Regions from separate parts of the Homo sapiens genome. Here region 2 is linked to region 1. Evidence: fine-mapped expression QTL. Tissue or cell type: whole blood. Region 1 holds a variant in brackets; the other region holds the start of a gene. All regions are shown on one strand. Distances are from middle to middle.

What was found. PIP is the estimated chance that this variant, and not a neighbour inherited with it, causes the effect.
Region 2: it holds the start of ZNF717, and the variant in region 1 is fine-mapped to the expression of ZNF717 in whole blood (TOPMed, PIP 0.98).

What each region holds. Positions count from the first base shown.
Region 1 is chr3:75,608,637-75,623,955 of GRCh38, forward strand. It overlaps the pseudogene UNC93B3. Among named protein-coding and RNA genes, the nearest start is that of MIR1324, 14 kb to the right of the region's middle. RefSeq lists an enhancer at 11,141-11,748. The variant C/T (reference allele first, on the strand shown) is at 7,100.
Region 2 is chr3:75,779,083-75,794,401 of GRCh38, forward strand. ZNF717 (zinc finger protein 717) reads right to left here and starts at 6,467. Exons shown (of 5, transcript NM_001290208.3): 1 at 6,302-6,467; 2 at 4,224-4,282. The coding sequence starts at 4,280. RefSeq lists an enhancer at 6,580-6,729 and a silencer at 13,887-14,087.

The DNA.
Region 1 (15,319 bases):
CGTTACTCCCAAGATAGCAGTGGGTGTGCATCCACCCGGTGATATTCCTCCTAATATTCCCGGAAGAAGAGAATGCTATTACTCCCAATATCTCAGGAAGTATACACCCCTTCTGTGACATTGTTCCTAATATCCGGAGGGGGAGAGGGTGATATTACTCGCAATATCGCAGGCTGTGTACACCCATCCTCTGATATTGTTCCTAGCAGCCAGGAAGGGAGAGGACGATATGACTCCCCATACAGCAGGAGGTGTACACCCATCCTGGGATATTATTCCTAATATCCATGGAGAGAAGAAGCTGATATGACTCCCAAAATCGCAGGGGTCGTACATCCAGTCTGTGATATTGTTCTTAATATTCAAAGGTGGAGAGGTTGCTATTACTCCCAATATCACAGAAAGTGTACAAACCCGTGTACTATTGTTGCTATTATCCAGAAGAAGAGAAGATGATATCACCCGCCCATCGCAGGAGGTGTACACTCACTCTGTGATATTTTTTCCAATGTGCAGGGCAGGGGAGGATAATATTCTTCTTAATAGCACAGGGTGTGTACAGCCCCACTGTGATATGGTCCTTAATATTCCAAGGCGGAGAGGATGATCTTACTCCCAATACCGCAGAAAGTGTACACAACCCCAGTGATATGGTTCCCATGATCCAAGAGAGAAGAGGATGATGTTACTTTCAATATCGCACGAGGTGGACACACCCCCAGTGATATTGTTCCTAATTTCAACGTGGGAGGGATGATACTACACGGAATGCCCCTGGGGGTAAAAACACTCCTGTGATATTGTTCTTAATATCAAGGGGAAAGACGATGCTATTACTCCAAAGAATGCAGAGAATGTGCACCCGTCTGTGACATAGTTGGTAATTTCCAGAGGCGGAGAAGATATTATTGACAATAAGGTGAACACGCTGTGTGACCACCGTGGATCGTCATATCCAGGGGGGGAGATGGGGGTGATATGACTCCCCGCATCGCGGGGGGCGCCCGCCCCCCTGCGATGTGGATCATCATATCCAGGGGGGGAGAGGGGGGTGATATGACTCCCCTCATCGCGGTGGGCGCCCGCCCCCCTGCGACGTGAATCGTCATATCCAGAGGGGGGTGATATGACTCCCCGCATCGCGGGGGCCTCACCCCATTGCGATGGGGGTCCTAAGAGCCAGGGGGAGATAGGGGCTGGCTCTTACTCCCCGTACCGCCGGGGGGGGGGGCCTCACCGCCCTGCGACGGGGCTCCTTAGAGCCAGGGAGGGGGAGGGGCTGGCTCTTACTCCCGGTATCGCAGGAGGTGTGTACAACCCCTGCGATATTGGGAGTAATATCATCCTCTCCCCCTGAATATAAGAAACAATATCACAGGAGCATGTACACCCCCTGCGATATTGGAAGTAACATCATTTTCTCCCCCTAGGGATATTCGGAACAATATCACAGTGGGTGTGTACAGCCCCTGCGACATTGCCGCTAGTATCTCCCTCTCCCTCCCAGGATAGAAGGAAGACTGTCACAAGGGGTTGTATACCCCGTGCGATATTGGCTGTAATATCTTCCTCTCCCCCGCTGCCCTTTAGGAGCAATGTCACACAAGGGGTGTACATCCCCTGCTATATTGGGAGTGATATCATCCTCTCCGTCCCTGGATATTAGGAAAAATATCCCTAGGGAGTGGACACCTCCTGCAATATTCAGACTAATATCATCCTCTTGCCGCCTGGATGTTAGGATCAATATCACAGGGGTGGTTTGCACCCCCGCCGAAATTGGAAGAAATATCATCCTCTTCACCTTTGGATTTTAGGGACAGTATCACGGGGGAGGTCTCCGCCCCCTGCGATATTGGGAGTCATATCATCCGCTCCCACCCAGGATATTAGGAACAAGATGACCGAAGGGATGTACACCCACTGCGATATCTTCCATAATGTCATCCTCTACCCCCTGGCTATTAGGAGTAACATCATAGAGGGGTGTACACTTTCTGTGGTATTGGGAGTCATATCCTCTCACCTACGGATATCGGGAACAGTTTTATTAATTATTAATATTAATAAATATAATAATTAATAGTAATCATCGATATTAATAACTACAGTGGAGACAGTAAAATTTAATGCTGATTAAAAATATTAATGATTATGATTAATAATTAATAACCATATCACTATTAATAACAAAATAATGATATCAGTAATTAGTCTTACTTAAATCCATCATAAGTGATGTTGGTAATAAAACAATGATTAATATTAATACTAATAACTAATATTATTTGAAATGACATTAATAGTAAGAATTAATTTTAATCATGCATAACCATGTTTTTAAAATAATGATTAATGACTAATAACGTTACACTATTAATTAATATTACCATTGATAATCATTAATGAGACTGATGTTTAATAATTCAGAATGTTCTTACTCCTAATACCGCAGGGGTTGTACACCTACCTGTGATATTGTTCCTAATATCCAGGGATGGAGAGCATGATATTAGTTTTAATATCACAGTAGGTGTACACTCACCCTGTGACACTGATCCCAATATCCAGCGGGTGGAGTATGACATGACTGCCAACACAGCAATGAATGTACAGCCACCCGGTGATATTGCTCCTAATATTCACGGAAGAAGCGTATGATATTACTCCCAATATCGCAGGGAGTGTACACCTCTTCTGTGATATTGTTCCTAATAACCCGACGGGGAGAGGATGATAATAATTCCAGCATGGCAGGCTGTGTTTACCCACCCTGTGATATTGTTATTAATACCCTGAAAGGGAGGGGATATTACTCCCAATAATAGATAGATATTACTCCTCATAATAGAGCAGGAGTTGTACACCCACCCTGTGATATTCTTCCTAATATTCAGAGGCTGAGAGGTTGATATTACTCCCAATATCGCAGGCATTGTACACCCCCTTGTGAGATGGTCCCTTCATAATATTCCAAGGCGGAGGTGGTGATGTGACTACTTGTATCGCAGAAAGTGTACACCCCCCAGGGATATTGTTCCCATGATCCTGGAGGGAAGAGGATGATATTACTTTAAATATCACAGAAGGTGGACACGCCCCCACTGATATTGTCTCTAATTGCAACATGGTAGAGGAGGATATGACACGCAATATCGCAGGGAGTAGACACACCCGTGTGATACTGTTCTTAATATTCAGGGAGGAAGAGGATGATATTACTCCCAATACAGATGGGTGTACACCCGTCTGTGAAGTAGTTCATAATTTCCAGAGGGAAGATGATATTACTCACAATATGGTAAACAGGCTGTGAGTCCACCGCGGATCCTAAAAACCAGGGGGGGAAGAGGGGCTGGCTCTTACTCCCCGCATAGCGGGGTGAGCCTCACCCCCCTGCGATGGGGATCATGAGAGACGGGGGGGGAGGGGGGCTGGCTTTCACTCCCTGCATCGCGGGGGGTGCCTCACCCCCCTGCGATGGGGGTCCTAAGAGCCGGGGTGGGGGGTAGAGGGGCTGGCTCTCACTCCCCGCATCGCGGGGGGTGTGTACAACCCCTGCGATATTGGGAGTAATATCATCCTCTCTCCCTGAACATAAGAAACAATATCACAGGAGCTTGTACACCCCCTGCGATGTTGGAAGTAACATCATTTTCTCCCCCTCCGGATTTTCGGAACAATATCACAGTGGGTGTGTACAGCCCCTGAGACATTGCCGCTAGTATCTTCCTCTCCCTCCCAGGATAGAAGGAACAATGTCACAAGAGGGTGTACACCCCCTGCGATATTGGGGGTGATATCTTCCTCTCCCCCGCTGCCTATTAAGAACAATGTCACAGAAGGGTGTACACCCCCTGCTATATTGGGAGTGACATCATCCTCTCCGTCCCTGGATATTAGGAACTATATCCCTAGGGAGTGTACATCTCCTTCAATATTCAGACTAACATCATCCTCACACCCCCTGGATTTGAGGATCAATATCACAGGGGTGTTGTGCACCCCCGGCGAAACTGGAAGAAATATCATCCTCTCCACCTTTGGATTTTAGGGACAGTATCACGGGGGAGGTCTCCGCCCACTGCGATTTTGGGAGTCGTAACATCCGCTCCCACCCAGGATATTAGGAACAAGATGACCGAAGGGATGTACACCCACTGCGATATTTTCCATAATGTCATCCTCTACCCCCTGGCTATTAGGAGTAACATCATAGAGGGGTGTACATTTTCTGCGATATTGGGAGTCATATCCTCTCCCCTACGGATATCGGGAACAGTTTTATTAATTATTAATATTAATAAATAGAATAACAATTAATAGTAATCATCGATATTAATAACTACAGTGGAGACAGTAAAACTTAATGCGGATTAAAAATATTAATGATTACAATTAATAATTAATAGCAATATCACTATTAATAATAAAATAACGATATCAGTAATTAGTGTTATTTAATCCATTGTAAGTGATGTTGGTAATAAGACAATGATTAACATTAATATTAATAACAAATATTATTAAAAATGACATGAATAGTAAGAATTAATTTTAATCATGCGTAACCATATATTTAAAATAATCATTAATGACTAATAACGTTATACTATTAATTAATATTACCATTGATAATCATTAATGAGACTGATGTTTAATAATTCATAATGTTATTACTCCTAATACCGCAGGGGGTGTACACCTACCTGTGATATTGTTCCTAATATCCAGGGATGGAGAGCATGATATTAGTTTTAATATCTCAGCAGGTGCACACTCACCCTGTGACACTGATCCTAATATCCAGCGGGTGGAGTATGACATGACTGCCAACATAGCAATGAATGTACAGCCACTCGGTGATATTGCTCCTAATATTCACGGAAGAAGCATATGATATTACTCCCAATATCGGAGGGAGTGCACACCTCTTCTGTGATATTGTTCCTAATAACCCTACGGGGAGAGGATGATAATAATTCCAGCATCACAGGCTGTGTTCACCCACCCTGTGATATTGTTATTAATATCCTGAAAGGGAGGGGATGATATTACTCCCCATAATAGAGCAGGAGTTGTACACCCACCCTGTGATATTCTTCCTAATATTCAGAGGCCGAGAGGTTGATATTACTCCCAATATCGCAGGCAGTGTACACCCCCTTGTGAGATGGTCCTTCATAATATTCCAAGGCGGAGGGGGTGATATGACTACATATATCGCAGAAAGTGTACACCCCCCAGGCATATTGTTCCCATGATCCTGGAGGGAAGAGGATGATATTACTTTAAATATCACAGAAGGTGGACACGCCCCCACTGATACTGTCTCTAATTGCCACGTGGGAGAGGAGGATATGACACCCAATATCGCAGGGAGTAGAAACACCCGTGTGGTACTGTTCTTAATATTCAGGGAGGAAGAGGATGATATTACTCCCAATACAGACGGGTGTACACCCATCTGTGAAATAGTTCATAATTTCCAGAGGGGAGATGATATTACTCACAATATGGTAAACAGGCTGTGAGTCCACCTCGGATCCTAAAAACCAGCGGGGGAGAGGGGCTGGCTCTTACTCCCCTCATTGAGGGGGGTGCCTCATGCCCCTGTGATGGGGGTCCTTAGAGCCAGTGGGGGAGAGGGGCTGTTCCCTACGTTGGGGCACTGAGGTCCCTGTTTTCTTTTAAGCTGCCATCGGGGACCACTCTCGGCATCCACAGGCCCCCTTGTATGTGGCCCCATGTCCACTTGCCCTACTCCAAGCCTGCAGAAGAGCACCTCTCTGCCATGTCCCTTTCTTTTAAAAGACTTGCCTGACTGGTTCAGGTCCACTTAGGTAGCATCCCATGTTATTAGCTCAAAAGTACTGTAGCCCATCACATTCACTCACAGGAGGGCATTAGCGGAGTGTGGACACCAGGCAGTGAGAATCTCTCAGGCCAGTTTAGTATTAAGTTGGTCAGCCAGGATCGGTGGCTCACGCCTGTAATCCCAGCACTTTGGGAGTCCAAGGTGGGCAGATCACCTGAGGCCAGGAGTTCGAGACCAGCCTGGCCAACATGGTGAAACCGTCTCTACTAAAAATACAAAAATTAGCCAGGCGTGATGGTAGGTGCCTGTAATCTCAGCTACTTGGAAGCCTGAGGCAGGAGAATCGCTTGAACCTGGGAGGTGGAGGTTGCAGTGAACCGAGATCGTGCCATTGCACTCCAGCCTGGGCCATACAGCAAGTCTCAAAAATAAATAAATGCAAAGGCTGCTGAGCGCAGTGACTCATGCTTATAATCCTGTCATTTTAGGAGGCCGAGGCAGGAAGACTGCTTAAGGCCAGGAGTTTCAGCCTAGCATGGACAACACAGTGCAACTCTATCTCTAAGTAAAATAAAATAAAATAAAATAAAATAAAATAAAATAAAATAAAATAAAATAAAATAAAATAAAATAAAATAAAATAAGTAAAATAAGAATTCAGTTGGTTAAAAGAAACTCACTAGGTCCAGCCCACAATCAAGGTATGGAAATTACACAAAATTGTGAAGAGTCAAGGGTGGGAGATCGCTGGCAGCCCCTTATAGAAGCTGCCTATCTCACATACCTGTTGGACAGCTTCTCTCTCCTAGCTGCGGGTATTTGAAGCGGGTGTCGAATCCTGCTCTTTTTTATGTCTGTTGCCTTTTCTCGCGGTGATGTGTTTCCTGTGTGTTCTGTAATTTTGGATCGTGAGCTGAGCTTCAGAGGGGCTTTATGTGGGGAATCCTGGGTGGCCAGGTTTGAGGGAGCCACCTAGAGAGGTTTTCTCTTTGGCTTTTCCAGGGGCCCCAGGGTACCACTAAGCCAAGGCAACTTTTTGTTTGAGACGGAGTTTCACTCTTGTTGCCCAGGCTGGAGTGCAGTGGCACAATCTCAGCTCACTGCAACCTCTGCCTCCCAGGTTCAAGCTATTCTCCTGCCTCAGCCTCCTGAGTACCTGGGATTACAGGCACACAAGGTATGGCTAATTTTTTGTATTTTTAGTAGAGAGGGGGGTTTCACCATGTTGGCCAGGCTGGTCTCGAACTCCTGACCTCAGGTGATTCACCTGCCTCAGCCTCC[C/T]GAAGTGCCGGGATTACAGGCGTGAGCCACCACCCCTGGCCCAAAGCAACTTTTTAGTGCTAATATCTCAACTCTGGCATTCCTAGACCACACAGGTAGCATGACTTCATTGTAGGAGTTCCACATTTATATAAGAGAGGCCTGAAAACGCAACGATCTCATGGGAAACTTGTTCAACACCTAAAGCTCAAATTTTCTCACCTTTCTCTGTTCCCCTGGGTGGAAATTTTTCTGTCCCTTTCTCTAAAGGTGTTGCATTTCTGTGGCCCCAACTTCATCATGCTTGACTGTAACCCTGACCCCCTGCCTTCTAAGGGCTTCCAAGGCTCAACCCAGCCCTGCCCTCAGGCAGTTGCAGCACCAGCTCCTCTGTCCCCACCTTGGTTCTCACTTCCCTCTTCACTTCTGGCTTTAGGGGACTTAACTTATTTTCTGAAGAACTCAGCTATATATTTATTTTATTTTATTTTATTTTATTTTATTTTATTTATATATTTTTTGAGATGGAGTTTCACTCTTTTGCCCAGGCTGGAGTGCAATGGCGTGATCTTGGCTCACTGCAACTTCTGCCTTCTGGGTTCAAGCGATTCTCCTGCTTCAGCCTCCTAAGCAGCTGAGATTACAAGCGCCTGCCACCACTCCTGGCTGATTTTTGTATTTTTCGTAGAGATGGGGTTTCACCATTGGCCAGGCTGGTCTCAAACTCCTGGCCTCAGGTGATCCACCCGCCTCAGCCTCCCAAAGTGCTGGAATTATAGGTGTGAGCCACCTTGCCCGGCCTCAGCTCTATAGTTAAAATGACATTTGTTTCTTACCCAGCATTTCTAGGTGTTTTGAAGAGGGAGATTTCTCAGGTTATCTAACCTGCTACTGAGAACTTAAAGATAGGGAAAATCTTGGACTGGAGATTCTTGTAATCACATAATTGAAAAATCCCAGCTGGGCATGATGGCTCACGTCTGTAATCCCAGCACTTTGGGAGGCCAAGGCAGGGGGATCACCTGAGGTCAGGAGTTTGAGACCAGCTTGGCCAATATGGTGAAACTTTGTCTCTAATAAAAATACAAAAAAATTAGCCTGGCATGGTGGTGGGCGCCTGTATTCCCCGCTACTCGGGAGGCTGAGGTAGGAGAATCACTTGAACCCAGGAGATGGAGGTTGCAGTGAGCTGAGATCACGCCATTGCACTCCAGCTTGGGCAACAAGAGTGAAACTCCGTTGCAAAAAAAAAGAAAAAAGAAAAGAAAAAGAAAAATCCCCACAGTGCGGATCGACAAAATCACAGAGTTGCTTTGGGAGCGAGGGTGGCAATCAGACACGGAGGCCATGACACAACCTGTTCGTCCACTCAGGGGTCCAGAACCTCCACCCAGTCACCTTATCCGGGGGTGATGGGGACAGGGGAGGTGCCACATACGCCACTGTCATCCCTTACAATGAGCTCTTCTCCTGCTCGAAAAGAGCCAGCCTGCTGAGCTTGCTGCCAGGGCCCGTCGCACTGCCTGCGCTGTTTCCCGTCGCACTGCCTGCTCTGTGTTTCCCGTTGCACAGCCTGTGATGTGTGTTTCCCGTCGCACAGCCTGTGATATGTGTTTCCCATCATGTGTGCACGAGTGTTGTCATGTAGTGTCTGTCACAGGTGTTACCCATCACGTGTGTTTGCATGTTACATGTGTGTGGCCTATCAGGTGTACATATGTGTTGTCTGGCACGTGTCAGCATCTGGGCATCCTCCGTGTGCCAGGAGCAGCCAGGTGGCCTGTGAGGCCTTCTCATGGGAAATGCCCAGATAGGAAGAGCACAGCCAGGAGCCAAGCCCCTGAGTGGCCACTCCCTGTGCCTGGATCACCTTCAAGTCTGCTCAACACCAGAGCCTCTGTTCCTTGGCACCATGGACATTAGAATTGACTCGGAACTGGGAAGAGCTGTAGGCCCACAATCCAGGCACCCGCTCCCCGTTCGCCCAGCATCCCAGGGGCCCACACCCTTCCAAATATCACCTTGCCCTCCATTCAGAGGTGAATCATCCGAGCGTCAGGTTGCCCAGCTCCGACTGGTTTTGCTGGAGCCTGCCTGGAGGATGTCGCCAGCCACCTCCAGAGAACACTCAGTCTACAGATGCGGAAGGGGAACTGGAAGCACACAGCGCTGGCCTTCACCCAGCTTATGGTGGCACCTCGGGACCGCTTCTGAGTCTGCTTGTCATTGAAGGTCAGCGTGAGGCAGGCAGCGTTCCCTCCCAGATTTAGAAAATGTCAAGTCTCCCGCCGCACCCTTTTGTGTTTCTTACAGGCCCTGGGGAGCTTGCAGCCGCCACACTAAGGGCTCCAACATGTTACCTCACACACTCAACAGAGAAGGAACCTGTGGCTCAGATGGGAGACTCCCTGTCCAAGGCCACAGAGTCTGGCCCCAGGGCCCACTAGAGGCTTCAAGAACCAAACTCACATGAGGGCAGAGAGGAGAGATGGGGTCAGTTTAGGGCTGGGAGAATCCATAGAGCGATGCTGAGGCAGGCATGGAGCCTGGAGGTACAGACGAGGGCCTCTCCAAAGTCAGGGGTAGAGAGGCTGTGGGGAGTGAGGAATGGTGTGGGCCAGCCCCGGGCGTGCTGGGGTGCAGCTGGGGGCTCCATGGCCCTCCCACGGCCCCCACTTGTCCTCACCCAATCGTTCAGAGCTCTTCATGGCGGGGGTGTCCCTCTCCTCTGGCCACAAGAGGAGCGGGTGGAGGAACGGCACCTTCAGGCCTTGTAGGGGGTCTGCCCCTCCACCAGCCTGTTTCTCGTGGGCATCGCAGCTGAGGCTGTAGCCGGGAAAGGGTAGTAACCGAGCATAACTGGCCTCCAGCCACCACTTCCAAGGCCCCTACTGGGCACAGGGTGACCCCACCGTGGCTCGGAAGTGGACCCTGTCCGACGCGGGGGTGGTCGCTGGAGGGCCGAGGATGCCTACACAGGCCCCTGGAGGGTGTGCCTCCGGAGTCTGTCGCGCCCTCAGGACCCATGGGGGACCAGCAACGCGGTCACACCCTCCTCTGTCTCTGCCAGCCGCTCCGTCGCTTCCTTCTCCTGGCTGGGATTGGCAAAGGCAGGCAGCTATGGGGGGCGGGGCCTCAGGAGGGAGGACAGGCTGGTGGACGGGGCCTACGGACACCTCGCCCCGCCCCCAGTGGTGCTCCGCACTCCCCACACCCCGCGGCCCCCCTAGGTCAGGGCCTCCCACCACCGCGCCCAGAGGCCGGGCCAGCCAGGCGTGCACCCCAGGGGCGCTCCGTCCCCCGCGGCCTGGGACTCCCCAGTCAGGACAGTACAAAATCTCTTTATTGCTCATTTTCTGTAAAAAATCGTGGCTCTCGGCGGACCCTGGGAATAGGAGGTGCAAAGCGCGCTCACACGCAGCCCAGGTCCGCGGCCGAGAGCTGGGGGGATCTGGAGCGGGGCCAGGTAGCAAGAAGACCCTGACCCTGCTCTGGGGCTGGGGCGCGTGCTAGGGGCCCGCGGGGTTTCAGCTGTATTTTCGAACCCCTGTGCTTGGCCGAGGGGTTCCCAAGGCTCCACTCCGCCTTGGAGGGGGCTGCGGAAGCCCAGAGGTGACCCAGGCTCTGGGAGGGGCGTCCCCAACGTGGGGGAGGGGAGACAGGGGCCTTTGAAGACAGCGCGGGACTCGGAGGGGGTCCCCCCGACCTAAGACGTGGTAAACTGAGGCCGGCGAGGAGGGAGGCTGAGTCCGGGGACCAGGCGGCCCCTCACTGCTCCTCCGGCCCATCGCCCCCTGCGCCTGTTCGTACGGGCAGGGCCGGCGGCCGAGTCCAGCGGGCTCGGGGCCAGGCCTGGGCCCTGCGGGCGGAGCCTCCGCCTCCGCCTCCTCGCCGTCCCCAAGATCGCCCTCCGCGTCGCTCTCGTCCGAGTTGTCCTCCTCCAAGTAGCGGTAACCGCGCACCTTGTGCTGGGGCCGCGGGATGCGGGGCTGCCGCGGGGCCACGCCCCGCCGCAGCTTCTGCTCCATCCGCAGGTAGGAGACCGTGGCCGCCACCAGCGTCACCAGCAGCAACGCCAGCTTAGCCTGGGCGTAAGGAGAGGGATGCCAGGGACCCGCGGCCGCCTCGCCCCACACCTTTCCCGCCTATGCCCCTCGCTGAGATAGGCCCTTCCCTCCTCCGGGAGCCTCCCGGGCCACGCGGCCCTCAACTTCTCCAGCCCCTCCACCCACTCTTCCTGGACCGCCTCCTGCAGGCGAGGCTCACATCCAGCACTGTCCCTTACAGTCACCATGCCCCTGGCGACCTCAGTGTCCCACGCTGTAAGGAGACAATGCAAATCCCTTTGCCTCATAGGGTGCATGTGCCAGTGTTGATAAAGTGCTGGCCACAGGCCCTGCCTTCCCAGGGCTCACAACACTGAGTCCCTGACACACCCGTGGGCTGTAGTGATGCTTTTCATGGGGTTTTGACTATAACCCGCAGTCAGGAATGATTTTACAACATAGCTCAGTACATACACACATATCTGTATGCATACTTCCGGCTATTTTCTTTTTTCGAGACACGGTCGCTCCGTTTCCCCACCGCTCCCCCTCCCTCCCTCCCCCCACCCACTGCTGGAGCGCAGTGGCATGCTCACTTCAGCCTCAATCTTTGAGGCTCAAGCCATCCTCCCACCTCAGTCTCCCAAGTAGCTGGAACTACAGGCACGCGCCACCACTCCCAGCTAATTTTTAAATTTTTTGTAGAGGCAGGGTCTCTTATGTTGCCCAGGCTGGTCTTGAACTCCTGGCCTCAAGCAATCCTCCTGCGTCAGCCTCCCAAAGTGTTGGGATTACAGGCATGAGCCACCATGCCCTGCCCACTCACTGCTTTTCTTTTTTCTTTTTTTCTTTTTTTTGGGAGACAGGGTCTCGCTCTGTCCTCCAGGCTGAAGTGCAGTGGCGCGATCTTGGCTCACTGCAACCTCCATCTCTCAGGTTCAAGCCATTCTCGTGCCTCAGCCTCCAGAGTAGCTGGGATCACAGGGACGCGCCACCATGCCCAGCTAATTTTTGTGTTTTTAGTAGAGACAGGGTTTCACAGCCTGTTACCCAGGCTGGTCTCGAACTCCAGACCTCAGGTGATACCCCCACCTCAGTGTCTCAAAATGCTGGGATTACAGGAATGAGCCACTGTTCCCGGCCCACTCCCTGCTATTTTTAGTTCTATTTTTATTTTTATTTTTATTTTTATTTGAGACGGAGTTTCACTCTTGTTGCTTAGGCTGGATGGAGTGCCAAGGCCCCGTCTCGGCTAACTGCAACCTCCGCCTCCCAGTTCAAGCAATTCTCCTGCCTCAGCCTCCCGAGTAGCTGTGATTACAGGCGCCTGCCACCACGCCCGGCTAATTTTTGTATTTTTAGTAGAGATGAGGTTTCACCATGTAGGTCAGGCTGGTCTCAAACTCCCTACCTCAGACAATCCACTCGCCTCGGCCTCCCAAAGTGCTGGGATTACAGGCGGGAGCCACCGCGCCCGGCCTTTAGTTCTATTTTTCAAAAATGTTTAGCAACTGGGACTTGCTAGACTGAGCCACCATCTTTTGGGAGCAGCGCCTGAGGAGCCTGCTCCCCTTCAGGCCATAAAGGGAGACAGACCCATCATCTGGAGAACAGGGTACCAAACAGCCCACAGGATGGCTGTGATGCACCCACAAATCCCCTCAGAGATGGGCAAACTGAGACTGGCTGGAGGTGGGCCAGTAAGTGGGTTGCTGAGTTGAGGGCCACCCAGTGGGCTGCAGGAATGAGGCTTGGCCCAGAGACTGGCTTGGGAAGGGGTGGCGTTTAGGAAGCTGTGAAGCCAGGGCAGGGGCTAAGGAAGTACCTGTCATTGGGCATGGGGCCCCCAACCCTGCCCAGTCTCACCTTCATGTGCAGGCTCGAGCCCAGGTACACGGTGAAGATGGCCACAGCCTGCCACCAGTGGTAGATGGTGAAGATGAAGTCCTGTCTCTCCTTGTCTTCATACAAGATTCCCAGGAGTGCTGCAGGCAGGCAGTACAAGGCAGGCAGGGGAGAGGTGTCACCTGGGGCCTGGGGCTGCCGAGCTACCATCTATGAACTTTACTAAGCCCTGTATGGGTCCCAGCCCCGGACCAGAGAGCACCTAGAAAGTGCTGTGAGCTGGTCCTGGCCTGCTCCCTGGTGGAAACCCTGGTCACCACACTGCTCACACGCTAAGCAGAAGTAGGAGCAGGTGCGTCGGGCTTTGTGGATGCAGGTGGTCCCGCTCCGCACCACATGCGTGGCCTCAAAAGAAGAAAGCTCTGTGCTTAGTCATATCCTGTCCACAACCCCAGGTGTGCAATGCCAAGCTTGCAGGCACTGTTTCTCCTCTTCAGCCGGGACTAGAGAGATCGAACTGTTTGCAGCTGCCAACTCTGCAAACCAAACCTGAAGCTAAGCATGGAGAGTGGGGCTTCCTTTCCAGTGAGTCCTCCCAGGGTGGGCAACAAGAGTAATGGATTGGGAGTCAGAAGATGCACACTCGTTCTCAGGACTGTAATGTTGGCTCTGTGGGTGATTTGGGTACTTAACTCCCCAGAGCTGTTTTTCCCAATGGTGAGATGAGCTTATGCCTATTCTGTGCTGTCTTCTGAAGTTCTAAAGTGAGAAAGTGGGCATGGCACCTGCCAAATCATAGGGACCACTGTTAACACCTTCACCAGGCACTCAGGACATGAACACTCCTGTCTTGGGGCCCTGCAGGGTGACTTTACCCCCACAGTGCTGCTATGAAGAGACAAGGATCCCCTGGGGTTGACCGGAGGAGATGGGATATGGAGCTGGGCAGAGGGGATGCCAGGACCAGACAGGGCACAACATGGGTCCAAGATACCCAGGTTGGACTCTGCCCAGAATTGGCTATCTTTGGGAAAAACGGCCAAGAGACTCTGGTGCAGTATGAGGCTCCAGCCCCTGCTACAGACAGAGACACCGAGCCAGCCTATGCCCTGCCAGCAGCAGGCATGACCTCTGCCACTCCACACCCCCAAGGATGATGTTCAAAACTGTTCACAGCTTTGGCCCATCAGAACAGACACTGACATGGGTGCCTCGCAGGACTGTGCCCATGTGTGCTAGCTGTGTGTCACTGCATGTGCCCATCTGTGGGCAGGGAGCATCCTGGAGCTGAACATGGGCCCACCCGCTGCCTTCTGCAAACAGGGCCCTGTTCCCCAGCAGCCCAGACCTGGGGCCTGGACTCTGGTACTGAGCAGAATGGGTTGGGGCTGCAGGCCTGCTCCTCTCTATACAAAGGCCCATGTCTGTATCTATGCCATGGATGTACAACGGGCCACTTGCTCCTACCACATGCTCCATGAGGCAGAGACCAAAACATCTGCTCCAAGTGTCATGACAATTATGCCAGGGTAAGCCCTGTCCCCTGGTATGAAAAGGGAGAATCCCTGATGTGTTTTTCAAACTGTCCCTAAGGGGTGTCCACAGAGCCCCACACCTGCCCCGTGTAGCCACGAGATTTCACACTGACACTCCAGTGTTGATGGGGCCCTGTGCCCGCCCTGGGGTATTAATGGAATGTCCATGGCGTGGAAACCCCATACCTCTCTCCAGGGTGTCCATGCCTTACCCATCTGTCCCCAATGTGTCCATGAGACTTCCCTTCCACCCCCAGAGTGTCCACAGGAAGCCCCACCTGCCTCTGCCATGTCCACAGGACCCTATGTGACCATGGGACCCCATATCTGTCCCTGGGATGTCTATGTCTAGCCAACCACCCACAGATAGCCATAAAGCCCCCTGCCCCGCCCCCCCCGCTCCCCCCCCCCCCCAGTGCACACAGCTATACTCACTGCTGAGTCCAGTCTTGTTCAGGGAGCTGCCCACAACCCAAAGGGCGGCTGCCACATAGAGGATCCAGCTGTGTTGCAGGACCCGAGGCACAGGGGCCCAGAAAAAGAGGATGAAGGTGAGCAGCAGGTGCACCCCTGCTCCAGCCACCAGGGGCACAGGGCGTGGCAGCCACAGGCCCAGCAGGCCCAGGAGTGAGGTGGCTGAGGCGCCCAGGCTGTAAGGCACGAGGAGGTAAGCCAGCCACTCCAGCCCCACCGAGCACACACCATAGCCCTGCGGGGGGACAAGGGGTGAGTGTTGAAGTCCGGAACAGCCCAGACCCCAGTCTCAGAGCCCTCCCCGCAGCGCGGGGAGTGCCTCACCCCCCTGCGATGGGGGT
Region 2 (15,319 bases), 170 kb after region 1:
CTGCTAAACTAGGAACCCAAAACAATGGGATTGACGTGCTAAAACCAGAACACAAAACAATGGGAGTGACGTGCGAAAACCGGAACCCAAAACAATGGGAGTGATGTGCTAAAACTGGAACCCAAAACAATGGGAGTGATCTGCTAAAACCAGAAACCCAAAATAATGGGAGTGATGTGCTAAAACCGGAACCCAAAACAATGGGAGTGATCTGCTAAAACCAGAAACCTAAAACAATGGGAGTGACGTGCTAAAACTGGAACCCAAAACAATGGGAGTGATGTGCTAAACCAGAAACCCAAAACAATGGGAGTGATGTGCTAAAACCGGAACCCAAAACAATGGGAGTGATGTGCTAAAACCGGAACCCAAAACAAAGGGAGTGATGTGCTAAACTAGAAACCCAAAACAATGGGAGTGACGTGCAAAAACCAGAACCCAAAACAATGGGAGTGTCCTGCTAAACCAGAAACCCAAAACAACGGGAGTGACGTGCTAAAACCGCAACCCAAAACACTGGGAGAGATGTGCTAAACAGGAACCCAAAACAATGGGAGTGACGTGCTAAAACCAGAACCCAAAACAATGGGAGAGTCGTGCTAAACCAGGATCCAAAGCAATGGGAGTGACGTGCTAAAACCGGAACCCAAAACCATGGGAGTGTCGTGCTAAACCAGAAACCCAAAACAATGGGAGTGATGTGCTAAAACCGGAACCCAAAACCATGGGAGTGTCGTGCTAAACCAGAAACCCAAAACAATGGGAGTGATGTGCTAAAACCGGAACCCAAAACAATGGGAGTGTCCTGCTAAACCAGAAACCCAAAACAACGGGAGTGATGTGCTAAAACTGGAACCCAAAACAATGGGAGAGATGTGCTAAACAGGAACCCAAAACAATGGGAGTGACTTGCTAAAACCAGAACCCAAAACAATGGGAGAGACGTGCTAAACCAGAACCCAAAGCAATGGGAGTGACGTGCTAAGCCAGAAACCCAAAACAATGGGAGTGACGTGCTAAGCCAGAAACCCAAAACAATGGGAGTGACGTGCTAAAACTGGAACCCAAAACAATGGAGCTGACGTGCTAAAACTGGAACCCAAAACAATGGGAGTGACGTGCTAAAACCGGAACCCAAAACAATGGGAGTGACGTGCTAAACCCAGAAACCCAAAAAATGGGAGTCACGTGCTAAAACTGGAACCCAAAACAATGGGAGTGATGTGCTAAACCGGAAACCTAAAACAATGGTAACTAACAGTAGTGCTAAGGCCCTACATTTTGGTCACACTCTCAACTAAGTGAGAACTTGACTAAAAAGGAGGAATTATTTTTTTTCTGAGATAGAGTCTTGCTCTGTCCCCCAGAGTGGAGTGCAGTGGCAAGATCTTGGCTCATTGCAAGTTCCGCCTCCCGGGTTCAGGCCATTCTGCCTCAGCCTCCCAAGTAGCTGGGACTACAGGTGCCCACCACCACGCTCGGCTAATTTTTGTATTTTTAGTAGAGACGGGGTTTCACCGTATTAGCCAGGATGGTCTCAATCTCCTGACCTTGTGATCCACCCACCTCGGCCTCCCAAAGTGCTGGGATTACAGGTGTGAGCCACCACGCCCAGCCAAAAGGAGGAATTTTTTAAGCAAAATTATGCGAGGCCATTGTTTTAAACTAAGCTCATGCAATAGGTCCCAACAGACCAAACCAAACCAAAATGGAGTTACTCATGCTAAATGTAACATAATCAAACTAAGACTTTAAGGAAACACATAAATCCTAGAACAAACCAGGTTTTGTTTTTCTCCTGTAAACAGGACGTTCCAGCATAAGAAGGTACCTTCTACTCAAGTCCTTGGTCCACCTTTTCAAAACTCACTGGTCTATTTCCCAGTGGGTTTCTAAAGCAAGTAAGTACATTTGCAATGGTAATAGTGACACCAGTGACTGAAGTTTTGGCCAATCTCTCAAAATTGAGAAAATAACCAAAGGGAAGGAATTGTTAAAGTGAACTAAGTATGGCCTGAGAAGGACTCCATAATTCTATATATGAGTCCTTGTGGATGAACTGCAACCTACCTTAATAGGTAGACAAGAATGAAAACCTAACTTGAGAGTATGCACCTGGAACAACAGCTGCGTCTTGGCCAATCCCAGTGGCCAAACTTCAACCACTCAGGCACTGCCAAGTGTTCAAACTGTGTTCAAACAAGGCAAATGCTGAGTTGTTTCTGTACCTCACTTCTGATTTCGGTATGCCACTTCCCTTTTGTCTATAAATCTTCTTCCACCAAATGACTGTGCTGGAGTCTCTGTGAATCTGCTGTGTTTCTGGGGACTCTCCGATTCATGAATCGTTTATTGCTCAACTAAACTCCTTTAAAGTTTTTCTTTTAACAGAACTAACACAGAAGAATTTCCAGATCATGAACAGACATTTTGTAATACCCAAAGTTGTGTTAACATGAATAGACTCGTCCTTAGATACCTAACCTTGTTTTTAATATGAATAGACTCTCCCTTAGCTGAGAAAACCGGACAAACTCCATTTGGCTCCTTCATTTATAAGACATCAAGGGCTCCTTACCCACTCCCTTTCCTCAAGGACTTTAACTTGTGCAAGCTGACTTTCAACATATCAAAGACTGCAATTAACTGATAAAGCGCTGAGGCAAGTGATGTCTGCAGTTCCCAGCAATTTACTCAGAGATAGTATCATAAAGCCCGCACATTTGTCCGGCAGCTAACGCCCAGAGCCCCCTCACCTATCACTTTGTGGTGAATTTAAAGCCCCTGCACCTGGAACAGTTTGTTTTCCTGTAACCATCTGTCGTTTTAACTTTTTTGTCTGTTTTTTCTTCTGTAAGGTTGCTGCAGCTAGAATCCCCCCTCCCCTCTCTAAACCAAAGTATAAAAGAAAAGCTAGCCCCTTATCCGGGGCCGAGAGAATTTCGTGCGTTAGCCATCTCTCAGTCGCTGGCTAATAAAGGACTCCTGAACTCGTCTCAAAGTGTGGCGTTTCTCTCTAACTCGCTCGGATACGACAGTTTCAACTATGGTAGAAGACTCGAGTAAGGCAATCACAGTCCCCCTAAATTTGACTATTATTTAGGTTAATGGTGAGTTTAGAAGAAATAAGTTAGGACTACACAGAGTGGGCTAAAGTGCAAATAAACACTGGAAGTATTTCCCAGAAAATATAACTTTGAACAGGCTGCTGCACACCCTGCATGTAGAGATAAACTAAGATAAAGGTGTGGAGAGTTATTTAAGGACCTGTGGTTAACTCAGTTCTCAAGATGTTCCAGGTTTCATCCATGAATCAAGGAGCACCTCCCAAAAGCTGTTTGGGACCACACTCTTTGAGCAAGGAGCATACCTTACAATGGAAGCTGTGCTTTGGCAGCAGATGCCCATTTCCACTGCACAACAGGCCGTGCTTTAGTGGAAGATGACTGTTTCCACTGCACAACACTACAAGTGTTTACTGCCAGGCTGGTGTGAAATATGTTCCACCACAGCAAGGAGCATACCTTATGATGGAAGCTGTGCTTTAGCGGCAGATGACCATTTCCACTGCACAACACACTGTGCTTTAGCGGCAGATGACCATTTCCACTACACAACACACTATGCTTTAGCAGCAGATGACCATTTCCACTGCACAACATGCCGTGCTTTAGCGGACGATGACCGTTTCCACTGCACAACACACCGTGCTTTAGCGGCAGATGACCATTTCCACTGCACAACACGCCGTGCTTTAGCGGATGACGACCGTTTCCACTGCACAACATGCCGTGCTTTAGCAGAAGATGACCGTTTCCACTGCACAACACTACAAGTATTTACTGCCAGGCTGGTGTGAAATATGTTCCAGCACATAACCTATGTCACCACCGAAGGTGGTGGTTCAGACTTGGTGCACACAAGCTTTCCTGTCCCACAAGAACACAGCATGCTCTCTTCGCGGGTTCCATTCCAATCACGTAACAACCATGACTGACTTTTTTGTCACTGCATCAGAAAGATCAGAGGAAAATTTGCACTCAACTTAGACAACTCTAAGCTCTTACAACCTGTCTATATCTACAGGTCAGCTTTATCTTATTTATGTATATTTCCTTCAACCTGAGTTTTACTTATTTCCACTTTTCTTTTTTAATTCACAGACACCCATAAACTCAGAAAATACAGTGTAAAACAAAGTGAAGAACAAATAAACAACTCACCAGAGATTTATTCTTTTCTTGTAGCTCTTGGAAACAGCCAGAGAACACTGGAAACATAGCTGAGAGAGAAGGCAAATGACGTGAATTAAGGAGAGAACTGGTGTGGTGTGGTCCCAGATTCTTCTGCCCAACACTCTAGACACATTACCTGGAAAAGCCCTCCTCCCTCCTGAAAAAGAAAAACTTCCCCATGGGAGAAGAGTCCTTCAAGCCTCATTAGGGGCAGCAAAGACTCAAGATAAGATACATCTACAAGTACATTAATTGGTAGACATTAGATGCACAATTTATTTTGAATAAAAATATGTATTACCTACTAATTTAGCAACAATATTACCTAAAGATACAATCTAATAATTTAATACAAAGAAACATTATAAGTTCACTAAAATAAATGTTATAGAAATATACTGGGCTGTATTAACTATTTTCCTATTAATATGTGGATTCCACAAATAACTTCATATGAGTGTTCCCATGACAGTACATCTTGCTTTTCTATACCTGAACATCATGGAAAGTGCATCTTGCAACCCAGCAATTTTGGCCTACAATTACTTTTTTTTAAATGTACATAATATGTATTTCCTGCAGTACACCATTCTACTCATGTTTCCCAATAACACCTTTCCCTGTATCCAAGCCCTCATATTATGCTCTGACAATAAATTGGGCTTTTCCATCTGACTTGTCCAGTGAATGGACAATGGAAAATGTGATGCAAATATCCATTGGTTCTTGCCTTTTTGGACACAGTCATATTGTGAGGAGGTCTGGAGCTACCCTGGTGGAGACACAGGGCCTAGCCAAGAGTCACCACAAACCGCCAGATTGTGAAGGAAACTATCTTAAACCAACCAGGCTCAGTCAACCCACCATGTGACCAAGGCCTCTTTTGTGATCCAGGCAACATAAATATATCAACTACCCAGCTGAACCCACCACACCAAAATGCAGATCCACAGAACTTCAAACAAATAAAATGGTGGTTGTTTTTTATAAGCCAGTAAGGTTTAATTAGTTCCTTAAACAGCAAGTATTAACTGTTACACCTAAGTGAACAGAATTCAATATGTTTTTAACAAAATTACGTAGGGGGAGAAAGTCTTAAATTACAAATCAAATACAATCGATAGAACTTCACAATCTAATGCTAAAGCTAAATTTGGTGATGGACTAGGTTTAATATATCTCAAACGCTGGAAACAACGAGGAAAGGTTGAAGGAATGGGACTGTGTTTGGAGAGTATTTTAATCTTCTCAGGTATGACAGGTCACTCCTGTACCCCAGACCACACTTTCAGGCCCCTTCAAATAAGGAATATTTCCTAGGTCCTTGCCTGTTCTTCTCAGCCGAATTCACCTCAACCTTCTGAAAGTTCGTCCAAACCTACCACTGTCACCTAGTCTTTGCAAATCTTGTGCATTCTAGGGAGTAGAATTAATATTTCCCGAGCGAGGAAAACTGGGATCTTCACCTGTGACCTTTTATCCTCCTCTGAAGCACCAGTGGGAGGTTAGACCAGAGGGCTGTTCTTTCAAGTGCGCTTCTTATTCATAGGGAACCCTCCCTTTCAAACCTTATAACACACGGTTAAGACTGAAGTACCCTTAAGGCTGAAGACCATCATCCAGTACCCCATCTCCCTCGCGGCATCAGTGAGTTCTTCCCTGGAAACTAGGTCTCGTATAAACTTCTGTAAACGCAACCCAGGAGGACTAGGCAGGTCACACAGTGAAGGAGGGAACCAGAAACTTCACTTGCTAAAGAGACACCGGGAAACCCAACTAATACAAACGCCCAGTTTAAGACTCGAGGCGCACGCGTTTCGCACTACTCCTCTGGGAATGGGGAACGTCTCCCGAGAACTGTGTGTTCGCACTGGGACAGATGGGCAAACTGAGCGTCATGCGGGTTGGTAACCGGCTCCCTCAGCGGCAGGACAGGAGCGCGGCCTGCAGACTCCGGGCCCAGGGCCACCGGCCTCGCCTACCCGCTCCTGCGCCTCTAGAACCCGCTTCACTGCCGGGACCCCACGCCTGTCCTCCCAGCCCCCGCCAGGGTCCGCGGCCTGCACCTGCACTTCAGGCCCTGCCCGCCCGCGATGCGCCCACGCGTCTGCTCCCACAACTGGGGAACACTGGTCCGGCCCCCCGGGATCCCCCGGGCCCACGGGTTCCTCTTCGCCCTCGCACCGACCCGCAGGGACATAGAACCAAGCCCCAGGCTGGCCCAGCTACAAGACCGCCTCTGGGTGCCGCACTTCCGGAGGAAAATGGCGGAGTGGGCGGGGCGGCGCATGCGCAGAGAGAAAAGCTGGTTCCCAAGGTCCTTGATGGTAACATCATTGGAAGGTGACACTACATTTCCCATGAGGCTCTGCGGTCCCCGGTTAGGAACCCAAGCCGGACATTCTGTTTTGCCCAGCAGTGAGTCCAGTTACCCAGAGACCCGGACTTAATGGATCAGGACTGGTCCCTACCCAGGTGACACAGATGTGGCATTCTGGTTCTTTATTAAATCCTGGTTTCACAGCCTGGCACATTGTGAAAATAATGGAGAAATTTCAATAGAGGCCAATTGGTCTATGCTATTAATGAGTAACTTTTTTTTTTTTTTTTTTTTTGAGACGGAGTCTCACTCTGTCACCCAGGCTGGAGAGCAATGGTGCGATCTCGGCTCACTGCAACCTCCGCTTCCCGGGTTCAAGCGATTCTCCTGCCTCAGCCTCCTGAGTAGCTGGGATTACAGGTGCGCGCCACCACACTCACCTAATTTTTGTATTTTTAGTAGAGACGGGGTTTCACCATGTTGGTCAGGCTGGTCTCGAACTCTTGACCTCGTGATCCGCCCTCCTCGGCCTCCCAAAGTGCTGGGATTACAGGCGTGAGCCACTGCGCCCAGCCCTCAAGTCTATTTTTTATAAATGCATTCGAAAGCATGAAAAAAATCATGTCTCTATTTTACTTTAAAATTTTAAAAACACAACTAATGAATATGGTAATTCTCTTCCAATCCGTTATCTTTTCTCTCACTAAACTAATTTATAAGCCTTCAATTTACACAGTTACAAAAAATGCTCTAGTGCATATACTGGGATAAAATAACAGGGTCATAAGACAGGTGCACTCCATAATCTTTGTGACAACTTACACTTCCAGTGTCTGATAAATATTTGCCCATAAACTCCCACGTTTCATCCATCCACCAATCAATCAAATCTAGCTATCTTTATTTATTTATTGTGAGAAAGACCTGAACTTTGCCTTTCCTTCCCTGATTTCTGCCACAAACTAGGCAAGGATTTCTGCCTAGGGGTTTCTCAGAGCTCCGGCCACCACCGAGGTTCCTAACAGGGAAACGCAAGCTTGAATGCTCAGGGTTGATGTGGGAGTGCGTGTGAAACGGGGTTGGGGTGAAAGGGCAGTGAAGTTTGTAGGTGGGCAGATGAGGGTGTGAAGGGCTTTCAGGTAAGAGGCACGCAGGAGACTGGGAGAGGCAGCGAAAGCACCTCACGCCTCAGATCACCAGAAGACGCTTCCACCAGTGCCGTGACAGTTTGCCAATGCCACGGCAGCACGGGAAGTCCCCACCCCTTGCCATGGAAACAGCTGGAAGTTACTGCCCATTTCTAGCTATTTCTGAATAACCCGCCCCTTAATTAGCATGCCATTAAAAGTGAATTATAAAAATGACTGCAAGCCACCCCCAGGCTGCTACTCTGGGAGCACAACCCACGGAGGGCTCCCTGCCCTGCAGGAGTGGACGCAGGGCTGTAACACCGCCAGTGCCTCCGTAGAGCTGCTTTCTTCCACCACAGGCTTGCTTTTGGATTCCTTCCTGAGCGACGCCAAGAACCTGCCCTTCCTCAGTGTGACTCTTGCCTAAAACCTATCCCTGGTTTTCTCTTTTCCTAAGCATGCCCTGACTTGTTCTTTCATCTCCTCGGATCTTGCAATTGCTCCTCAGTGACTCTATTCTGCAGATCCAGAAAACTCAACCTTAATCTTCCCAGAGCCCTGTTGTCTCCAATATCGGAATCTCTAGCCTTGCTTTCTCAGACGCCTAGATTACAGGCCTCTCTCTTGAACACCTATTGGTATGGTATCTGGGGATCCTTTAAATACACGATGATTGGCAGGGGTTACATAGCGGAAATCAGTGCCTGACAATTTGCCTTCCAGGATATGGACTGTCATTCCCTCTCTTGGTGGGCCTCAGTCTCTTATCCATAAAAGTAGAGATTGTAATACTCATTTGAATTGCAGATACCTCAACCTGAACCCACCTAATATAACGTAAAAGCCAAGACTGCAACCCCTTTCCTCACCACGTGAAGGTGAAGTCCTCAGAGCCAAGGAGAGAAGGCTCAGGGATGATACCTGGGTGTCTCCGACGCTAACCATGTATTGCAGTTTTTAGTGTTCAAGTTTAAGCTTCCCCAGCTTTAATTCTATTGTAACAAGATTTATTTTTGTAATTCCATTTTTGGATTCTTGATTTCTTGGTAAAGAAATACAGTTATTTTTGTATATCAATCTTATATAGTGTTACATTCTTAAATTTGTTCATGAGTCCTAATACTTTTTAGTAAATTTCTTACGATTTTCTAAATGCAAGATCATGTCATCTGTACATAAAGATAACTGTACTTCTTCCTTTCCAATCTAGATGCCGTTTATTTATTTACGTTGCCAAGTTGTCCCAGCTACCACTGTTATCAAGTAAAAGGGTCTCACTGCCCAAAGCACTAGAAGCCGGTACCACGACACTGAGTTTTCGAGAAAAGAAAAAGTTTAAAGTCAAACCAAAACCTATGGGGTACAGGCCGGGCGCAGTGGCTCATGCCTGTAATCCCAGCACTTTGGGAGGCTGAGGCGGGCGGATCGCGAGGTCAGGAGATCGAGACCATCCTGGCTAACAGAGTGAAACCCCGTCTCTACTAAAAATACAAAAAACAAAAATTAACCGTGCGTGATGGCGGGCGCCTTTGGTCCCAGCTACTCAGGAGGCTGAGGCGGGAGAATGGCGTGAACCCGGGAGGCGGAGCTTGCAGTGAGCCGAGATCGCGTCACTGCACTCCAGCCTGGGAAACAGAGCGATACTCCGTCTCAAAAAAAAAAAAAAAAAACCTATGGGATACAGTAAAAACACTACTACAGTACTAAGAGGTAAATTTATAGCAAAAAGCACCTGCATCAAAAAAAGTAGAAAAGCTTCAAATAAACAACCTAATAATGCATCTTAAATAATTGGAAAAGCAAGAGCAAACCAAAACCAAAATTAGTAGAAGGAAACATAGCAAAGATCAGAGCAGAAATAAATGAAATTGAAATTTAAAAATATAAAATATCAATGAAATGAAAAGTTAATATTTTTTAAAAGACCAACAAAATCAACAAACATTTAACCAGACTAAGAAAAAAGAGAGAAGACTCAAATACATAAAACCAGAGATTAAAAAGGAGATACTACAACTGATACTGCGGAAATTCAAAGAATCATTAGAAACTATTATGACTGACTATATTCCAATAAATTGAAAAACCTGGAAGAAATGGCCAGGCACCGTGGCTCATGCCTGTAATCCCACCACTTTGGGAGGCCAAGGAAGGTGATCACCTGAGGTCAGGAGTTCAAGACCAGCCTGGCCAACATGGTGAAACCCCATCTCTACTAAAAATACAAAAATTAGCCAGGCATGGTGTCATGCACCTGTACTCCCAGCTACTCCAGAGGCTGAGGCAGGAAAATCACTTGAACCTGGGAGGCAGAGGTTGCAGTGACCTGAGATTGTACCACGCTCCAGCCTGGGTGACAGAGCAAGACTCCATCTCAAAAAAAAGAAAACAAAAAAACAACCAAACAACAAACCTAGAAGAAATGGATAAATGAAATTGAAGCCATAATAAAACATCTCCTAGTAAAGAAAAGCCTGGATCCAATGGCTTCACTGGCTTCACTGATTAATTTTACCAAACATTGAAGGCAGAATTACTATCAATCCTACTTAAACTATTCCAAAAAACAGAGAAGGCTGTAGTATTTCCAAACTCATCCTATGAAAAAGACCATTCATCATGTCTAAGTGGGATTTATCCCGAGGATGCCAACATGGTTCAACATATGCAAATCAATCAATGTGACACATCATATCAACAGAATGAAGGACAAAAACCATATGATAATTTCAATTGATGCTGAAAAGCATTTAATAAAATCCAACATCCCTGTGATAAAAAGAAACCCTCAAAAAAAAACTAGATATAGAAGGAACATACCACAACACAATAAAAACCATATGCAACAGACCCACAGCCAGTATCATCCTGAACAGGGAAAAGCTGAAAGCCTTTCTTCTAAGATCTGGAACAAGACAAGAATGTCCACTTCCAACACACAGTACTGGAAGTCCTAGCTAGAGCAATTCAGACAAGAGAAAAACAATAAAAGGGATCCAAATTGGAAAGAAGTAAAATTATTACTGTTTTCTTGTTTGCAGATGATTTGATCTTATATTTGGAAAAACCTAAGGACTCCACCAAAAAACTATTAGAACTGATCAACAAATTCAGAGTCACAGGATACAAAATCAAACTACAAGAGTCGGTAGCATTTCTAAATGACAAAAATGAACAATCTAAAGAAGAAAATCAAGAATGTAATCCCATTTACAATAGCTACAAATAAAATAAAATATCTGGGAACAAACATAACAGAATAAGTGAAAGATCTCTACAATGAAAACTATAAAACACTGATGCAAAAAAATTAAAGAGGACACCAAAAAAAATGGAAAGATTGTCCATGTTCATTGATTGGAAGAGTAAATATTGTTAAAATACCTATACTTCACAAAGCAATCTACAGATTCAATGCAATCCCTATTGAAATACCAATAACACTCTTTACAGAAATAGAAAAAAAATCCTAAAATTTATATGAAACCATAAAAGACCCAGAATACCGAAAGCCATCCTGAGCAAAAAGAACAAAACTGGAAGAATCACATCACCTGACTTTAAATTATACTACAGAGCAATTGTAAACAAAACAGCATGGTACTGGCATAAAACAGACACATAGACCAATGGAACAGAATAGAGAACCCAGAAATAAATCCATACATTTACAATTAACTCATTTTCAATGAAGGTGCCAAGAATATACATGGGGGAGAGGACAGTCTCTTCAACAAATTGTGCTGGGAAAACTAGATATTCATTGGCAGAATTTTTTTTTTTTTTTTTTTTTTTTTGAGATGGAGTCTAGCTCTGTTGCTCAGGCTGGAGTGCAGTGGCGTGATCTGGGCTCACTGCAAGCTCCACCTCCTGGGTTCACACCATTCTCCTCCTCAGCCTCCCAAGTAGCTGGGAGTACAGGCGCCTGCCACCATGCCTGGCTAAATTTTTTTTTTTTGTATTTTTAGTAGAGACGGAGTTTCACCGTGTTAGCCAGGATGGTCTCAATCTCCTGCCCTCATGATCCGCCCACCTCGGCCTCCCAAAGTCATTGGCAGAATAATTAAACTAGAACCCTCTCTTGCACTATATACAAAAATCAAATCCAAATGGGTTAAAGACTTAAATCAAAGACACGAAACTGCTGAAAGAAAACATTAGGGAAACTCTCCAGGAAATTGGTCTGGGCACAGATTTCTTGAGTAATACTCCAAAAGCTCAGGCAACCAAAGCAAAAATGAACAAGTGGTATCACATCAAGTTCAAAAGTTTCTCCATAGTAAAGAAAACAATGGGCAAAGTGAAAAGACAATCCACAGAATGGAAGAAAATATTTGCAAACTATATATCTGACAAGGGATTAATAACCAGAATATATAAGGAGCTCAAACAACTCATAAGAAAAAAACTAACAATCCAATTATTTAAATGGGCAAAAGATCTGAACAGACATTTCTCAAAAGAAGGCACACAGGTCAGGCACAGTGGCTCACACCTGTAATTCCAGCACTTTGGGGAGCCAAGACAGGTGGACCACTTGAGCCCAGGAGTTCAAGACCAAACTGAACAACATAGCAAATAATTTTAAAAACTACCTGGGCATGGTGATGCATGCCTGTGGTCCCAGCTACTCAGGAGGCTGAGGTGGGAGGATTGCTTGAACCCTGGCAGTCAACACTACATTAAGCCATGATCATACCACTGCACTCCAGCCTGGGTGACAGACTGAGACCCTGTCTCAAAAAATGAGCAAAAACAAAAAAGAAGATATATAAATGTCAAATAGGGATATGAAAAGATGCTCAATATCATTGATCATCAGAGAAATTGAAATCAAAACTACAATAAGATATCATCTTACCCCATTAAAATGGCTTTTATGCAAAAGACAGGCAATAAATGCTTGCAAGAACGTGGGGAAAAGGGAACACTCTTACTCTGTTGGTGGGAATGTAAATTAGTACATTCACTATGGAGAACAATACGGAGGTCCCTCAAAAAATTAAAAATAGAACTATCATATGATCCAGCAATCCCACTGCTGGGTATATACCCAAGAGAGGGAAAATTAGTATATCAAAGAGATATCTGCATTCCCATATTTATTTCAGCATTATTCATAATAGCCAAGATTTGGAAGCAACCTAAGTGTGCATCAACAAATGAAGGGATAAAGAAAATGTGGTGCATATACACAATGGAGTACTCTTCGGCCATGAAAAAGAATAAGATTCTGTCATTTGCAACAACATGGATGGAACTAAAGGATATTATGTTAAGTACAATGAGCCAGGCACAGAAAGACAGACTTTGCACGTTCTCACTCATTTGTGGGAGCTAAAAATTAAAACAATTGAACTCATCAAGATAGAGAGTAGACTGAGAGCTTCCAGAGGCTGGGAAGAGTAGCGGTGTTACGGGATCTTTGGAGTGTTACTTTTCTGGACAGAAACCTCTATGGCTGGTGGCACCTTTGCCTGCGTTTTGCTGGGCCCCACCCACTCAGCCTGGCAGGCTGTGCTCAGCTCATGCTACCAGGTTGGATCCCACGCCTGCCAAGGGAGACTGCATGGAGTGGCAAGGGGTGTGTGAGTGAGCATGGGGTCTGGCCACTGTGCAGTCAGACTTGCTGGCTGCTGCAGTGGGGCAGGTGGCTCCAGGTGCCAACACGGGCACCAGCTCTCTACAAGGCTGTGGCTGGACCACGGGCACCGCAAGCAGCTTCCACAGCTGGCACACTGGGAACACAGTGGCACCCAGAAGCTTGGAGATACCAGGAACCACAGGGCCCTAAAGAGGGAATCACAGCCCTGGCTCGGGGAGCTCCAGGTCTGGGCTCCCCAAAGGGCCACAGCTCTTCTTTCCTTCTCTTTGCCCACAATGTGGCAAGCAAGGGGCATGTCTCAGCCCTGCTTGTGTTACAGCTCTTTCAGCCTCTTCCCTAGATTTGCCATAATTAATTCCCATATCGTCTTATTTTTTTACATGTGTTTCAACTTCAGAAGATGTATGGATCTAAACACAACATGATGTGTTAGCTAGCTTCCATATGAGTTTCTCCCTGTTTCACCACTATGTAGCCTAAAGTTATTCCGTCATCCACGACTATCCTGGCTAAAGAGTCTGAAGATCTTTATTTGGTAGCTACGGCTTCAGCTAGTTCATTTGCTAAGTTACCTAGAGTGGTTGACAGATTTCTAATTATACGTTCATGAGAGTTACTCCCCACCATTGCAAGAGACTTCTGCCAAACATAGGCCAAAATTCATCTCCTTGGTTTGCAGGTACGGTTTGTCTAATCCTGGAAAATAATTTCGATGAACTACTTCAGTGTTCAGAAACATTGGAGTTATAAATAGAAAGAGGAAGAGCCACATAACCTAATAGACAATTACCTCTCATATGCCAGTGGTCAACACATTCATAAGCCCATGGGTGCTTGATCCAGGGACAACACAGGGTCCTTGACGGATTCTGAAATTTAAGGCTTTGGTTTACTGGTAACAGAGACAGGTTAAAGTACATGTCTTCAGTCTTGAGTAGAGTGTAATCAGTCTGATTTCTTTTTTTTTTTTTTTAATGAGACAAACATCAGGTAAAGACCTTGACAAGAAGGAAGAGAAATCCCGAGATTCTATAATCATAATAATCGAATTGTAATTGCTAGTTTAAGTAGTCCTTCAAAAATACATCTCATTCCTGACAGGAAAAAACAAGTTTTTTAAAATATGTTATATCTGGGTTAACTAGGGAACACTTGGAGCCAGGAAATAATTCAGGATTCAGCCCAAATTATAGGCAAATAATAAAAACTCGGAAACAATGATCAGGGCTGGAATCTAATAGCATATGTCATAGTTTTCTTTTGGAACATAAATTTTCTCTCTCTAGTCCATCATTTTATCAAAGACAAATCATAGTAGGACAAATTTGTGTGCAAAATAAGTTTTAGTCTTATCGTACCTGGTCTGATTATTTGCATAAAGTGCAGTAAGAATATTTATTGACCATATAGGCTTCTTAAAATTGGCTTTGTTGGAACTTTTTAATAAGGAATCTTAGACTTTTAAAAGCCTTGAGGCTAGCCAAGTCAAAGATTTGCATCAGACTGTGTCTGTAATACTTTTTTTTAACCTACTTTTTTTTTTATTATACTTTAAGTTCTGGGGTACACGTGCAGAACGTGCAGGTTTGTTACATAGGTATACATGTGCTGTGGTGGTTTGCTGCACCCATCAACCCATCACCTATATTATGTATTTGTCCTAATGCTATCCCTCCCCCCGCCCCCACCCCCCAACATGCCCCAGTGTGTGATGTTCCCCTCCATGTGTCCATGTGTTCTCGTTGTTCAACTCCCACTTATGAGTGAGAACACGTGGTGTTTTGTTTTCTGTTCTTGTGTTAGTTTGCTGAGAATGATGGTTTCCAGCTTCATCCATGTCCCTACAAAGGACATGAACTCATCCTTTTTTATGGCTGCATAGTATTCCATGGTGTATATGTGCCACATTTTCTTTATCCAGTCTATAATTGATGGGCATTTGGGTTGGTTCCAAGTCTTTGTTATTGTGAACAGTCCTGCAATAAACGCAGGTGTGCATGTGTCTTTATGGTAGAATGATTTATAATCC